2 separate regions of the Homo sapiens genome follow, and region 2 is linked to region 1. The links come from fine-mapping of genetic effects on gene expression. Tissue or cell type: whole blood. Region 1 holds a variant in brackets; the other region holds the start of a gene. All regions are shown on one strand. Distances are between the middles of the regions.

Region 1 (8,185 bases):
AGGAGGAGCGCATCTTCGAACAGTGCGGAGGCTGGGGGAGACACGGTTACGCTTGATGATATACTGTCTTTGAAGAGTGGTCCTCCTGAAGGTGGGAGTGTTGCTGTTCAGGATGCTGACATAGAGAAGAGAAAAGGTGAGGTGGCTTCGGACCTAGTCAGTCCAGCAAACCAGGAGTTGCACGTAGAGAAACCTCTTCCAAGGTCTTCAGAAGAGTGGCGTGGCAGCGTGGATGACAAAGTGAAGACAGAGACACATGCAGAAACAGTTACTGCCGGAAAGGAACCCCCTGGTGCCATGACATCCACAACCTCACAGAAGCCTGGTAGTAACCAAGGGAGACCAGATGGTTCCCTGGGTGGAACAGCACCTTTAATCTTTCCAGACTCAAAGAATGTACCTCCAGTGGGCATATTGGCCCCTGAGGCAAACCCCAAGGCTGAAGAGAAGGAGAACGATACAGTGACGATTTCACCGAAGCAAGAGGGTTTCCCTCCAAAGGGATATTTCCCATCAGGAAAGAAGAAGGGGAGACCCATTGGTAGTGTGAATAAGCAAAAGAAACAGCAGCAGCCACCGCCTCCACCCCCTCAGCCCCCACAGATACCAGAAGGTTCTGCAGATGGAGAGCCAAAGCCAAAAAAACAGAGGCAAAGGAGGGAGAGAAGGAAGCCTGGGGCCCAGCCGAGGAAGCGAAAAACCAAACAAGCAGTTCCCATTGTGGAACCCCAAGAACCTGAGATCAAACTAAAATATGCCACCCAGCCACTGGATAAAACTGATGCCAAGAACAAGTCTTTTTACCCTTACATCCATGTAGTAAATAAGTGTGAACTTGGAGCCGTTTGTACAATCATCAATGCTGAGGAAGAAGAACAGACCAAATTAGTGAGGGGCAGGAAGGGTCAGAGGTCACTGACCCCTCCACCTAGCAGCACTGAAAGCAAGGCGCTCCCGGCCTCGTCCTTTATGCTGCAGGGACCTGTTGTGACAGAGTCTTCGGTTATGGGGCACCTGGTTTGCTGTCTGTGTGGCAAGTGGGCCAGTTACCGGAACATGGGTGACCTCTTTGGACCTTTTTATCCCCAAGATTATGCAGCCACTCTCCCGAAGAATCCACCTCCTAAGAGGGCCACAGAAATGCAGAGCAAAGTTAAGGTACGGCACAAAAGTGCTTCTAATGGCTCCAAGACGGACACTGAGGAGGAGGAAGAGCAGCAGCAGCAGCAGAAGGAGCAGAGAAGCCTGGCCGCACACCCCAGGTTTAAGCGGCGCCACCGCTCGGAAGACTGTGGTGGAGGCCCTCGGTCCCTGTCCAGGGGGCTCCCTTGTAAAAAAGCAGCCACTGAGGGCAGCAGTGAAAAGACTGTTTTGGACTCGAAGCCCTCCGTGCCCACCACTTCAGAAGGTGGCCCTGAGCTGGAGTTACAAATCCCTGAACTACCTCTTGACAGCAATGAATTTTGGGTCCATGAGGGTTGTATTCTCTGGGCCAATGGAATCTACCTGGTTTGTGGCAGGCTCTATGGCCTGCAGGAAGCGCTGGAAATAGCCAGAGAGATGGTGAGTATGAGAAATCTCTTACCAGCTTGGGATTTTTATTTCATTTGGTTCCTTTTCTTGCATGTTTTTGTTCTTACATGTCACATGATTATTCCTCCAAATTAAAGTGCCTATGCCCATGTGATGGACAGAAAATGAAATAGGTAATTTGGAAGATTTGTATAGACTTCTAAAATCGTTTTTCATTTTTTGAAATGTATAATGCTTATGAAGCATATTATTATATTTCAAGTTTCTTGGGCCACATCTTTTCTAACGCACACTTTCCAGTTAGGATATTTATTCTTTGGATCTGTTTCATAACTTATCCTGGGGCAGATCATCAACATCATCATCTTCATTTCTTTCTCTCCTCTATTGAATGTTCTGTTTCCTGAATCCCATTTCTTCCTCATTCTTAAAGTGAGCCTTCATTTAAGGGCGTGCATCATCCTTTAGTAGTTTTGTGAGAAAGGGTGTGTGGGAGTGTAAAAATGTTGAGATCCTATATATCTGAGCATGACTTTATCCTAGCCTCATGCTTAATTGAGAGTTGGCTAGGTGTGGAATTCTAGATTGGAAGTGATTTTTCTCTCACTGTCTTGCAGTCGTTCTTCCTGGTTTGTCCACTAGCTTCCAGTGCTGCAGTTGAGAAGACTGCCATTCTAATTTTTCATCCCTTGATGCATGTTCTGTTTTTCTTCTGGAAAGTTTGAGGATCTTCTCCTTTTCCCTAGGGTCTTGAGATGTCAAAATGATAGGTCTTGACTAGGTCATTTCATGGTTGTGTTGGCTACTCTATGAGATCTTATGTACGCTGATGTCTTTCAGTTCAGGCAATTTGTCATGTGGTAGTTCTTTGAAAATTTCCTTCCCTCTATTTTCTCTGCTCTCTTTATAATTCCTGTTAATATAAGGCATTTTACCTCCTGGATTGATCCGCTGTTTTTATCTTTTCTCCTCTGTTTTATGTTTTATCTCATTATCTTTTTGTTCTGATTTCTCTATGCTTTCTTCAGCTTTATCATCTAATCTTTTTTGTATGTGGGTTTTGTTTTGGTTTTGTTTTGTTTTGTTTTGTTTTGTTGTCACTCAGGCTGGAATGCAGTGGTGCGATCACAGCTTACTGCATTCTCGAACTCTGGGGCTCCCTGGTACCTGGGACTAAAGGTGTGTGCCACCATGCCCAGCTAATATTTATATTTTTTGCAGAAACAAGGTCTCACTGTGTTGCCCAGAGTGGTCTCAAACTGCTGGACTCAAGCAATCCTTCCACTTCGGTCTTCTAAAGTACCAGGATTATAGGCATGTGCCACAAGCCACAGTGCCCAGCCTTCTAGCCTTTTATTTACTTATTTTTTTTCTTGATATTTTGAAGAGCTTTTTTTTTCTCTGAATGTACTGACTTTTAAAGAATAATCAGAGCCTAGTTGATGGCTATAATCGTTTCTCTTGCTTTTTGAATACATTATAACGTATTTTTTGTTTTTGTTTTTGTTTCAGTTTCATGCCCTTACCCAGGCTGGAGTGCAGTGATGTGATGATGGCTCACTGCAGCCTCCAACCACTGGGCTCAAGGGATCCTCCCAAGTAGCTGGACCACAGGTGCATGCCAGTACACCTGGCTAAGTTTTTTACTTTTTGTAGAGACAGCATCTCACTTTGTTGCCCAGGCAGGCTGGTCTCACCACCTGAGCTTAAGCAATCCTCCCACGTCAGCCTTCCAAAGTGCTGGAATTACAGGCGTGAGCCACTACACTTGGCCTGTACTATAATTTTTAAAAATCTTTGTCTGTTTCCTATTTTCTCTTTCTTGTTAGAGGTTCTTCAGATGTCTTGATTTTTTTTTCTTTATTGAGATGGGGTTTCGCTCTTGTTGCCCAGGCTGGAGTGCAATGGCGCAATCTCAGCTCACCGCAACCTCCGCTTCCCAGGTTCAAGCGATTCTCTTGCCTCAGCCTCCTGAGTAGCTGGGATTAGAGGCATGCGCCACCATGCACAGCTAATTTTGTATTTTTAGAAGACATGAGGTTTCTCCACGTTGGTCAGTCTGGTCTCGAGCTCCTGACCTCAGGTGATCCGCCCACCT[C/T]GGCCTCCCAAAGTGCTGGGATTACAGGCTTGAGCCACTGCACCCAGCCTTGATTTATATTTTTAAGAGAGAAAGAGATGTTTTAAAAAATGACTTGAAGCTCTCTGTTACAGTATGGGCCAGGCTTGCTAGCCTGTAGTCCTCTCCGTAGAATAATAAGGCAGCCAGCCAGCATATGGGTCTTTTTTCTGAGTTGAGTTTTCCCAGAGGAAAAAAAAACATTTTTTTTTTTGTTCCAGAGAAAAATCTTGAGATTTCCTGTCTAGAGATGCAAGCTTGGCTGCCAGCGTCCTAAAAGCCAAGTGGAGAAGAGGATGGTAGGGTTGTGTGGGTGGGGATATGGGCTCATGATTCAGTGCGCGGACTTTGACAATCTCCCGCCTGTTTTCAGTGGATGAGAACAGTTACCTGGTTGAACTGGGTTAAGGATCTAACTCCTCTTAGAAACTTTGGGCTAATGCTCTATTTTTCAGCCCCATGTTGCACCCCCACTTACTGAGGCCTCCCCAAGCTCTGTGCCCTAAAGTGGCTGGCTTTCTGGGGGCTCCTCCACTGCACTCATCATTACTGTCTGCTTCCTTGCAGTGCACAGAATCACTGTCACTCACTTCATCTCTCATGTTTCCAGCTTCCCATTGCTCATGGTGTCATGAGTTTATCTTGCAAGTTTATCCACTTTTTCGTGGGAAGGGATCAGATGGATGTACAACTGTATGTTTAGTAGTCTACCATATTATTTATAACCTTCTGGCAAAAAGAAGTGCCCATAGACTATAGTAAAAATTATATTGAATGTGAAATATATATTTGAAATTAGAACATTTTAATTCAGTCATGCAAGGAGCTTGCCCTTTACTCTTATCATGTCCCCTATCTCCCAATTACGGTCTTTTCTTTGTGCCTCCTTCCCTGTCTCCATTATTAACATCACGGTGAAACTCCAAGTTTGAGGTAGAAGATTCACTTCCCCTAAGAAGTTTATACACAATGACATTTTAAAATGCAAAGATCCTAGGAGGATGTAACATTTAAGACCCTCAAGTACAAAATTCTTTAGTCAAATTTGAGCGCTCAAAATAATCCGTTAATCATCCTCTTGTCAAAGTTGAGTTCTTGCTTCCCAACTTTCCTTGGAAAGTCACAGTATTTGGTGGGTTTTTTGTTGTTTGTTTTTTGAGACAGAATCTCACTTTGTTGTGGGGTTTCACCATGTTGGCCAGGCTGGTCTGGAACTCCTGACCTCAGATCATCCATCTGCCTTGACCTCCTAGAGTGTTGGGATTACAGGTGTGGGTCACTGCGCCCAGCCTGTTTATTGCTTTTTGATGTGCATATGTGTATGTGACCATCTGACAGTGTTTTCGTTATTTCAACATTTATTATTAACATATCTCAGCCCAGTTTTTTTGTGTAAACTTTTAGGTGTTCTATAGCAATAATTGATAATCAGTAATCAGGCTAAATCTTCCCCAGCAAATCTCTAGATCCTGTGTCTCAATTCAGGTCTTGGGCCGAGCATGATGGCTCACGCCTGTAGTCCCAGCACTTTGGGAGGCCGAGGTGGGCAGATCGCCTGAGGTCAGGAGTTCAAGACCAGCCTGGCCAACATGGTCAAACCCCGTGTCTACTAAAAATATGCAAAAATTAGCTGGACATGGTGACAGGCACCTGTAATCCCAGCTACTCGGGAGGCTGAGGCAGGAGAATGGCTTGAGCCTAGGAGACGGAGGTTGCAGTGAGCCAAGATGGTGCCACTGCACTCTAGCCTGGGCGACTGAGTGGGATTCAATCTCTAAAAAAAATAAGAAAAAAGTTAGGCTTGTTGTCTCTTTGAGCTGATGTACCACTATCACTATAAGATCCGTTTCTAGCTTTTATTTACCTAGCTTTTATTCTACTTTTCTCAGTGCACTCAAGGACAAATTAAAATTACACTAACTTGCCTTTTATTTAATTTGACAGATGATGTTTCAATTGTCCAGGATACTTTGAGTCTAGTTTTATCTTACTAGGTTTTAGCAGATAGATGCATTCAGTTTTGGTCTTGCTTAATGAGCATGCCCTTAATCCTATCATGTAAGATAAAGTCACATATATTTCATTAGAGATCCATTTTGGCCTATGTATTTATCAGGTGTTTTGACAAGCACGATGTTATATTAAAATATTGGGAAGTCCTCAAGAGACATTGCTCCTCTCCCTGTGTCACACTACTCTGAAAATTGCCGAAAACTAGAACATTTCTATATTTAAAAATGGTGTTTACTTCCCTTCCTTTTTCCCTTCCTTTTTCCCTTCCCACAAGTGTGGGACTTGTGAATCTATTCATTTCAGCACAAGTCCCCTTTGCTTCTGTCCAACATTGACCACTGTTTGCCTTGGTATAATTGTGTATGAGAATCACAATGACCTCTGACATGAATGATATTACAGAGGTAATTGCCTCTGAATGGGTATGGATATAACTTGGTATGTACAAATCACCTTTGAGACATTAAGGAATGCCAAGGCGTGCAGGGATGTGACAGAAGGTAGATCTGGTGGCCATGGATCCCTTGAGGCTGGATAGCCCTACTAGTGGGGGAGTCGGGGAGTCTTTGCTTGTTCCCCTCTCATAGAAGGTGCCCCTCCCAAATTTTTCCAACCCCCCTTGGGAAACTTTTAATCTTTTTTTTTTACCTGACAGTATATGTTAACTGGTTTTAGGTTAATTTTTATTTTCTATTTTTATTTTTATTTTGAGATGAGTCTTGCTCTGTTGCCAGGCTGGAGTGCAGTGGCACAATCTTGGCTCACTGCAACCACCTCCTCGTGGGTTCAAGTGACTCTCCTGCCTCAGCCTCCCAAGTAACTGGGACTGCAGTCATGCACCACCACACCTGGCTAATTTTTGTATTTTTAATAGAGACAGGGTTTCACCATGTTGGCCAGGCTGATCTCAAACTCCTGATCTCAAGTGATCCACCTGCCTCAGCCACCCAAAGTGCTGGGATTACAGGCCTGAGCCACTGTGCCTGGCCAATTTTCTTTAAATTTCTGAATCAATATATTAAAGATTATATTTAGGGTTTTTTTTCCTTGATTTTTTGAGACAGGGTCTCACTCTGTTGTCCAGGCTGGAGTGCAGTGGCATGATCTCGGCTCACGGCAACCTCCGCCTCCTGTATTCAAGTGATTCTCCTGTCTCAGCCTCCCCAGTAGCTGGAATTACAGGTGCGTGCCACCACACCCAGCTAATTTTTGTATTTTTAGTAGAGACGGGATTTGAGGATGTTGGCCAAGCTGGCCTTGAACTCCTGACCTTAAGGAATCCACCCTCCTCGGCCTCCCAAAGTACTGGGATTATAGGTGTGAGCCACTGCACCTGGCCAGTTTAGGGGCTTATTTTTAATACAAGTTTAAATAATGGATAATTATTTACTTCCCCCATCTAACAGACTCACATCTTTCTTAAATTTACTTTAAATTGTGATGGAAAACATGATTTGGAAAATATAAAATAGATTGATTACATTATGAAAATGAAATCACATATTAAAACATCAAAACAGCCAAGTCAGAAAGGTAGGCTCTCTAGTTTAACTGTAAAATAGAGCCACCAGTCTACATGCTCTCTAAATTCTCAACTATATGTTCCTTGAAGGTGGTCATTTCCAGGGCCTGGCAAGGCCCCCATCCTGGTGAAGGCTCCCTTCAACTCCTGTTCTCTGCTCCTAACTCCAGTACCTCACCCCCACCCCTACCTGATTGTTCTTCCTCTGTGCTTGCTACAACTGCCCTTTCTCACATTCCCACACTCCCTTTCTCCATTCTCCTCTCCCTCCCAGCCCCCTCTCTCTGGCAAGCACTTGCTTTTTGTTACTTCTGCTGGGACCCATCTTCATTTCTCACTCTCTAGGCGGTGGCGCCCTGTTCCCATGGCTTTCAGTATATAGCAGAGACTTGTATCTAATTTACCTGTTTTTCTTAACACTGTGTGGTATATCTTTTTATATCACTGCATGATGACATTGACACTAAATTTCCAGAGAAAAGGTTCATTTTCTTTCAGGATTTCGTCCAAATTCTAAGGAATCAAGTGAAATTTTCAGTTTTGAATTTTATTGCATATATTACCTTACAGAATAAATCATGACAAATTGAAGGACTCAAATTTTACTACGATTTATTTCTTGACTTTTTTTTTCTCTCTAGAGGTAGGGGGATGATGTGGGGAGCATTACACTTGATTTTAAAGTAAAATTTATAAGGAGTACACGATTCTTTGGCCAAGGCTGGGCAAGGTGGCTTATGCTTGTAATCCTAGCACTTTGGATTACCTGAGCCCAGGAGTTTGAGACCAGCCTGGGCAACATGGAGAAACCCTGTCTCTACCAAAAATACGAAAATTAGCCAGTCTTAATGACCTAGTCTCAAAATAAATAAGTAGAGAAAAATATTCAAAAAAATCCCAAAGGACCATAAACAAAAATATTGATAAACAAGCCACAACACACAAGTTATTATATGTTAATTACTCATCCCTGGGATGTTAAACTAGTTATTGCTAATCTG
Region 2 (8,138 bases), 76 kb after region 1:
TAACAGCTGGGGTTAAAAAGCAGCAGCTGGGGCATGAGCGGTCCACAGTGAGTTTTTGTTGTTTTTGTTTTTTTGGGTGGGGGATGGGGTCTTGCTAGGTCTCAAACTCCTGGCCTCAAGTCATCCTCCCATTACAGCCTTCTGAGTCACTGACACTACAGGTGTGAGCCACCATGTCCAGCTTGTAGTGGTTTTGAACAGCTCTTGCCCCTTCTTGGGAATCTAGGTGCCCTGCACGTGGGTAAGGCTGTCTGCAGCTGTGCCCATATTCAGGAAGGCCGGCAAGGCCCTGAGCCCTCACACGTGACTGACCTGAGGTGCTGTGCAGACAGCAGGTGACGGCTAAGGGAAAGTTGAGCACTGCCTAGCCGAGCACTGAAGCCACGCCCGGCACACAGAGAGAGACCCACTCGGCAAAGACTTCGCTTCCAGGCACCTAAGGAACTCTCTGACCAGTCATTAGCTGACCACTGCCGTAACTGAAGAGCGGCTTCAGTGGCCACAGCTCGCAGGGAATGGAGACATTAATGCTTAGTCAGAATTAGTTCAGAAAAGTCACCCAGCAAAGAAACAGCTCCAACAGGCAACAACAACAACACATCCTTGGCAGGGAAGAGAATCTGACTTCCGGAGTTGCCACATTATCGCCCGTGAAATGTCCAGGTTTTAACAAATTATGAGACATGGAAAGGAAACCGAAAGGACGACCCAGACACGGGAAAAGTCACCAATGGGACCAGCCCGATGCTGCAATTGCTAGACAAAGACGTTCAGTCAGCTCATTTAAATATGTTCAAAGACCTAAAACATGCTGCATCTGAGGCTGCACCGGCTGGAACCTGCTGATCTCGGAAGCTAAGCATGGTCAGGCCTGGCTAGTACTTCAAAGGGAGAAACCACGTGTAGGCCTGGTGCAGTGGCTCACACCTATAATCCTAGCACTCTGGGAAGCTGAGGCCCGTGGATTGCTTGAGCCCAGGAGTTTGAGAGCAGCTTGGGAAATGTGGTGAGACCCCCATCTCTACAAAAAAATTTAAAAAATTAGCTGGCTGCCTATGGTCCCAGCCTCTCAGGATGCTGAGGTAGGAGGATCACTTCAGCCCAGGAAGTTGAGGCTGCAGTGAGCCATGACTGCATCACTGCACTCCAGCTTGGGCGACAGAGAGACCCTCTCCCAAGAAAAAGAAAAGAACCATGTCAAAAGAACTAACGAAAGTGTGGGAACAATGTCTCACCAATTAGAGAATATCAATAATGGGATGAACCTTATAAAAAGGGGCTGGGCATGGTGGCTCATGCCTATAATCCCAGCACTTTGGGAGGCTGAGGCGGGCATATCATGAGGTCAAGAGATTGAGACCAGCCTGGCCAACATGGTGAAACCCCGTCTCTACTTAAAATACAAAAATTAGCCGGGCGTGGTGGCACGTGCCTGTAATCCCAGCTACTCGGGAGGCTGAGGCAGGAGAATCGCTTGAACCCGAGAGGCAGAGATTGCAGTGAGCCGAGATTGCACCACTGCACTACAGCCTGGGTGACAGAGCGATACTCCAAAAAACAAAACAAAACAAAAAACAAAAAAAAAGTTTAAAAAGGAACCAAATAAAAATTCTGGAGTTGTAGGGTAAAATAAATGAAAATTCATCCCAGGGGCCCAAGAGCAGATTGGAACAATTGGAAGAAAGAGCCTGTGACTATGGAGAGAGGCCACCTGAGGTAGTACCCTCTGAGGAACAGGAACAAGCATGAAGAGCAATGCACAGAGATCCAGAGACCTGGAGACGCCGTCAAGCTTTCCGACATACACGCAATGGGAGTCCCAGGAAAGAAGACAGGGAGAAAGGAGTAAAGGAATAGTTGAAGAATTAATGGCTGAAAAACCTCCCAAATCTGATGAAAAATATTAATCTGTACATCCAAAAAGCTCATCAAACTCCAAGTAGGGTAAACTCAAAGAGATCTTCAGCCATACGCATCATCATAATCACTGTCAAAAGACAGATTTTTCTTTTTTTAGAATTTTAAATGTACCTTTTAATTTGCTCCTGGGGCAAAGAGCCAGGACTGGTACTAGAGCAGTGTCTGGGATGAGAAGAATTTAATAAAATGGGATTAGGTCCAATGGTTGGGTTAGGGGAGGCAACCTGCTCGGGAGGATCAGCCTCAACCTATCCATGCAGCAGGGCCTCCACCTGTCCCTCTCCGTAGTCCCACACCTGGAACCCAGAGCCATCTGCCTCTTCCCAGATCATGGCCGACAGCACTCCACCAGACTGCGGCTGGAGCAGGCACAGGATTCACTTATTGAGGGCTGTGGCCTGGCACAGATCATAGCCTATACCCAGGGACAGTTGTGTCACTTCTGCCACCACCACATCCGCCTTCTGCAGCCACATCAAGTACCACTCATGGATGAGCCCGTCACCCCCAGCGGACTTATCAACCCCGCGTCCAGCTCCACAGCCGCCACGTGCTCGGTGAGCACTGGCTCCAAGCATGGCAGCTGCCATACAATCCACCTGTAGAGGGCCCGGTCCTCCTGTCCTCAGTGGATGATCCCGTAGAAGTCCAGAGCTCGGCAGCTGCCCTCCCACAAAAGACAGGATTTTGAAAGCAGCAAGAGAGAAGAGACGTATCAGGTAGTCACAGTGGCTCAGGCCTGTAATCCCAGCACTTTGGGAGGCCCAGGTGGGAGGATCGCTTCACCCCAGGAATTCAAGACCAGCCTGGACAACTTGGAAGAACCCGGTCTCTACAAAAAATACAAAATTAGCTGGGATTGGGTGCGGTGGCTCATGCCTATAATCCCAGCACTTTGGGAGCCTGAGGTGGGTGGATCACCTGAAGTCAGGAGTTCAAGACTAGCCTGGCCAACATGGTGAAACCCTATCTCTACTGAAAATACAAAAAGCTAGACGTGGTGGCACACACCTGTAATCCCAGCTACTTAGGAGGCTGAGGCAGGAGAATTGCTTGAAGCCTAGAGGTGAAGGTTGTAGTGAGCCGAGATTGCATCATTGCACAATGGAGGGGAGCCACCAGCCTGGGCAACAAGAGGAAATCTCCGTCTCCAAAAAAAAAAAAAAAAAAAAAAGAATTAGGCTGGGTGGTGCCTGTAGTCCCAGCTACTTGGGAGGCAGGGGGTCCACTTGATGTCGAGACTGCAGTGAGCCATGATCCTGCCACTGCACTCCGGCCTGGGCAACAGAGTGAGACCCTGTCTAAAGAAAAAAAAAATAAAGCAACATATCCTGAACAAAGGATCCTCCATAACGTTCCCACCAGATTTCTAATCAGAAACATGGAGGCCAGAAAGCAGTGGAGGAGGACGACCCTCAGGCAGCCCGGGAGGATGTTGTCACAGGCTGGGGCAAGGGCCTTCCGGCTACCAACTGGGAGCTCTGGGAACAGCCCTGTTGCAAACAAGAAGCCATAGCCCGGCCAGAGCCCAGGAATGTGGGCTGGGCTGGGAGCAGCCTCTGGACAGGAGTGGTCCCATCCAGGAAACCTCCGGCATGGCTGGGAAGTGGGGTACTTGGTGCCGGGTCTGTATGTGTGTGTGACTGGTGTGTGTGAGAGAGAATGTGTGCCCTAAGTGTCAGTGTGAGTCTGTGTATGTGTGAATATTGTCTTTGTGTGGGTGATTTTCTGCGTGTGTAATCGTGTCCCTGCAAGTGTGAACAAGTGGACAAGTGTCTGGGAGTGGACAAGAGATCTGTGCACCATCAGGTGTGTGCATAGCGTCTGTGCATGTCAAGAGTGCAAGGTGAAGTGAAGGGACCAGGCCCATGATGCCACTCATCATCAGGAGCTCTAAGGCCCCAGGTAAGTGCCAGTGACAGATAAGGGTGCTGAAGGTCACTCTGGAGTGGGCAGGTGGGGGTAGGGAAAGGGCAAGGCCATGTTCTGGAGGAGGGGTTGTGACTACATTAGGGTGTATGAGCCTAGCTGGGAGGTGGATGGCCGGGTCCACTGAAACCCTGGTTATCCCAGAAGGCTTTGCAGGCTTCAGGAGCTTGGAGTGGGGAGAGGGGGTGACTTCTCCGACCAGGCCCCTCCACCGGCCTACCCTGGGTAAGGGCCTGGAGCAGGAAGCAGGGGCAAGAACCTCTGGAGCAGCCCATACCCGCCCTGGCCTGACTCTGCCACTGGCAGCACAGTCAACACAGCAGGTTCACTCACAGCAGAGGGCAAAGGCCATCATCAGCTCCCTTTATAAGGGAAGGGTCACGCGCTCGGTGTGCTGAGAGTGTCCTGCCTGGTCCTCTGTGCCTGGTGGGGTGGGGGTGCCAGGTGTGTCCAGAGGAGCCCATTTGGTAGTGAGGCAGGTATGGGGCTAGAAGCACTGGTGCCCCTGGCCGTGATAGTGGCCATCTTCCTGCTCCTGGTGGACCTGATGCACCGGCGCCAACGCTGGGCTGCACGCTACCCACCAGGCCCCCTGCCACTGCCCGGGCTGGGCAACCTGCTGCATGTGGACTTCCAGAACACACCATACTGCTTCGACCAGGTGAGGGAGGAGGTCCTGGAGGGCGGCAGAGGTGCTGAGGCTCCCCTACCAGAAGCAAACATGGATGGTGGGTGAAACCACAGGCTGGACCAGAAGCCAGGCTGAGAAGGGGAAGCAGGTTTGGGGGACGTCCTGGAGAAGGGCATTTATACATGGCATGAAGGACTGGATTTTCCAAAGGCCAAGGAAGAGTAGGGCAAGGGCCTGGAGGTGGAGCTGGACTTGGCAGTGGGCATGCAAGCCCATTGGGCAACATATGTTATGGAGTACAAAGTCCCTTCTGCTGACACCAGAAGGAAAGGCCTTGGGAATGGAAGATGAGTTAGTCCTGAGTGCCGTTTAAATCACGAAATCGAGGATGAAGGGGGTGCAGTGACCCGGTTCAAACCTTTTGCACTGTGGGTCCTCGGGCCTCACTGCTCACCGGCATGGACCATCATCTGGGAATGGGATGCTAACTGGGGCCTCTCGGCAATTTTGGTGACTCTTGCAAGGTCATACCTGGGTGACGCATCCAAACTGAGTTCCTCCATCACAGAAGGTGTGACCCCCACCCCCGCCCCACGATCAGGAGGCTGGGTCTCCTCCTTCCACCTGCTCACTCCTGGTAGCCCCGGGGGTCGTCCAAGGTTCAAATAGGACTAGGACCTGTAGTCTGGGGTGATCCTGGCTTGACAAGAGGCCCTGACCCTCCCTCTGCAGTTGCGGCGCCGCTTCGGGGACGTGTTCAGCCTGCAGCTGGCCTGGACGCCGGTGGTCGTGCTCAATGGGCTGGCGGCCGTGCGCGAGGCGCTGGTGACCCACGGCGAGGACACCGCCGACCGCCCGCCTGTGCCCATCACCCAGATCCTGGGTTTCGGGCCGCGTTCCCAAGGCAAGCAGCGGTGGGGACAGAGACAGATTTCCGTGGGACCCGGGTGGGTGATGACCGTAGTCCGAGCTGGGCAGAGAGGGCGCGGGGTCGTGGACATGAAACAGGCCAGCGAGTGGGGACAGCGGGCCAAGAAACCACCTGCACTAGGGAGGTGTGAGCATGGGGACGAGGGCGGGGCTTGTGACGAGTGGGCGGGGCCACTGCCGAGACCTGGCAGGAGCCCAATGGGTGAGGCTGGCGCATTTCCCAGCTGGAATCCGGTGTCGAAGTGGGGGGCGGGGACCGCACCTGTGCTGTAAGCTCAGTGTGGGTGGCGCGGGGCCCGCGGGGTCTTCCCTGAGTGCAAAGGCGGTCAGGGTGGGCAGAGACGAGGTGGGGCAAAGCCCTGCCCCAGCCAAGGGAGCAAGGTGGATGCACAAAGAGTGGGCCCTGTGACCAGCTGGACAGAGCCAGGGACTGCGGGAGACCAGGGGGAGCATAGGGTTGGAGTGGGTGGTGGATGGTGGGGCTAATGCCTTCATGGCCACGCGCACGTGCCCGTCCCACCCCCAGGGGTGTTCCTGGCGCGCTATGGGCCCGCGTGGCGCGAGCAGAGGCGCTTCTCCGTGTCCACCTTGCGCAACTTGGGCCTGGGCAAGAAGTCGCTGGAGCAGTGGGTGACCGAGGAGGCCGCCTGCCTTTGTGCCGCCTTCGCCAACCACTCCGGTGGGTGATGGGCAGAAGGGCACAAAGCGGGAACTGGGAAGGCGGGGGACGGGGAAGGCGACCCCTTACCCGCATCTCCCACCCCCAGGACGCCCCTTTCGCCCCAACGGTCTCTTGGACAAAGCCGTGAGCAACGTGATCGCCTCCCTCACCTGCGGGCGCCGCTTCGAGTACGACGACCCTCGCTTCCTCAGGCTGCTGGACCTAGCTCAGGAGGGACTGAAGGAGGAGTCGGGCTTTCTGCGCGAGGTGCGGAGCGAGAGACCGAGGAGTCTCTGCAGGGCGAGCTCCCGAGAGGTGCCGGGGCTGGACTGGGGCCTCGGAAGAGCAGGATTTGCATAGATGGGTTTGGGAAAGGACATTCCAGGAGACCCCACTGTAAGAAGGGCCTGGAGGAGGAGGGGACATCTCAGACATGGTCGTGGGAGAGGTGTGCCCGGGTCAGGGGGCACCAGGAGAGGCCAAGGACTCTGTACCTCCTATCCACGTCAGAGATTTCGATTTTAGGTTTCTCCTCTGGGCAAGGAGAGAGGGTGGAGGCTGGCACTTGGGGAGGGACTTGGTGAGGTCAGTGGTAAGGACAGGCAGGCCCTGGGTCTACCTGGAGATGGCTGGGGCCTGAGACTTGTCCAGGTGAACGCAGAGCACAGGAGGGATTGAGACCCCGTTCTGTCTGGTGTAGGTGCTGAATGCTGTCCCCGTCCTCCTGCATATCCCAGCGCTGGCTGGCAAGGTCCTACGCTTCCAAAAGGCTTTCCTGACCCAGCTGGATGAGCTGCTAACTGAGCACAGGATGACCTGGGACCCAGCCCAGCCCCCCCGAGACCTGACTGAGGCCTTCCTGGCAGAGATGGAGAAGGTGAGAGTGGCTGCCACGGTGGGGGGCAAGGGTGGTGGGTTGAGCGTCCCAGGAGGAATGAGGGGAGGCTGGGCAAAAGGTTGGACCAGTGCATCACCCGGCGAGCCGCATCTGGGCTGACAGGTGCAGAATTGGAGGTCATTTGGGGGCTACCCCGTTCTGTCCCGAGTATGCTCTCGGCCCTGCTCAGGCCAAGGGGAACCCTGAGAGCAGCTTCAATGATGAGAACCTGCGCATAGTGGTGGCTGACCTGTTCTCTGCCGGGATGGTGACCACCTCGACCACGCTGGCCTGGGGCCTCCTGCTCATGATCCTACATCCGGATGTGCAGCGTGAGCCCATCTGGGAAACAGTGCAGGGGCCGAGGGAGGAAGGGTACAGGCGGGGGCCCATGAACTTTGCTGGGACACCCGGGGCTCCAAGCACAGGCTTGACCAGGATCCTGTAAGCCTGACCTCCTCCAACATAGGAGGCAAGAAGGAGTGTCAGGGCCGGACCCCCTGGGTGCTGACCCATTGTGGGGACGCATGTCTGTCCAGGCCGTGTCCAACAGGAGATCGACGACGTGATAGGGCAGGTGCGGCGACCAGAGATGGGTGACCAGGCTCACATGCCCTACACCACTGCCGTGATTCATGAGGTGCAGCGCTTTGGGGACATCGTCCCCCTGGGTGTGACCCATATGACATCCCGTGACATCGAAGTACAGGGCTTCCGCATCCCTAAGGTAGGCCTGGCGCCCTCCTCACCCCAGCTCAGCACCAGCACCTGGTGATAGCCCCAGCATGGCTACTGCCAGGTGGGCCCACTCTAGGAACCCTGGCCACCTAGTCCTCAATGCCACCACACTGACTGTCCCCACTTGGGTGGGGGGTCCAGAGTATAGGCAGGGCTGGCCTGTCCATCCAGAGCCCCCGTCTAGTGGGGAGACAAACCAGGACCTGCCAGAATGTTGGAGGACCCAACGCCTGCAGGGAGAGGGGGCAGTGTGGGTGCCTCTGAGAGGTGTGACTGCGCCCTGCTGTGGGGTCGGAGAGGGTACTGTGGAGCTTCTCGGGCGCAGGACTAGTTGACAGAGTCCAGCTGTGTGCCAGGCAGTGTGTGTCCCCCGTGTGTTTGGTGGCAGGGGTCCCAGCATCCTAGAGTCCAGTCCCCACTCTCACCCTGCATCTCCTGCCCAGGGAACGACA

Evidence for each region. PIP is the estimated chance that this variant, and not a neighbour inherited with it, causes the effect.
Region 2: CYP2D6 starts here. The variant in region 1 is fine-mapped to the expression of CYP2D6 in whole blood (TOPMed, PIP above 0.99).

Annotation. Positions count from the first base shown.
Region 1 is chr22:42,203,029-42,211,213 of GRCh38, reverse strand. It overlaps TCF20 (transcription factor 20), which reads left to right. Exons shown (of 6, transcript NM_001378418.1): 2 at 1-1,563. Among named protein-coding and RNA genes, the nearest start is that of TCF20, 64 kb to the left of the region's middle. The variant C/T (reference allele first, on the strand shown) is at 3,632.
Region 2 is chr22:42,126,984-42,135,121 of GRCh38, reverse strand. CYP2D6 (cytochrome P450 family 2 subfamily D member 6 (gene/pseudogene)) reads left to right here and starts at 4,312. Exons shown (of 9, transcript NM_000106.6): 1 at 4,312-4,510; 2 at 5,213-5,384; 3 at 5,937-6,089; 4 at 6,178-6,338; 5 at 6,772-6,948; 6 at 7,139-7,280; 7 at 7,488-7,675; 8 at 8,130-8,138. The coding sequence starts at 4,331. RefSeq lists a cis regulatory region at 3,016-3,027 and promoters at 2,721-4,253, 3,840-4,306.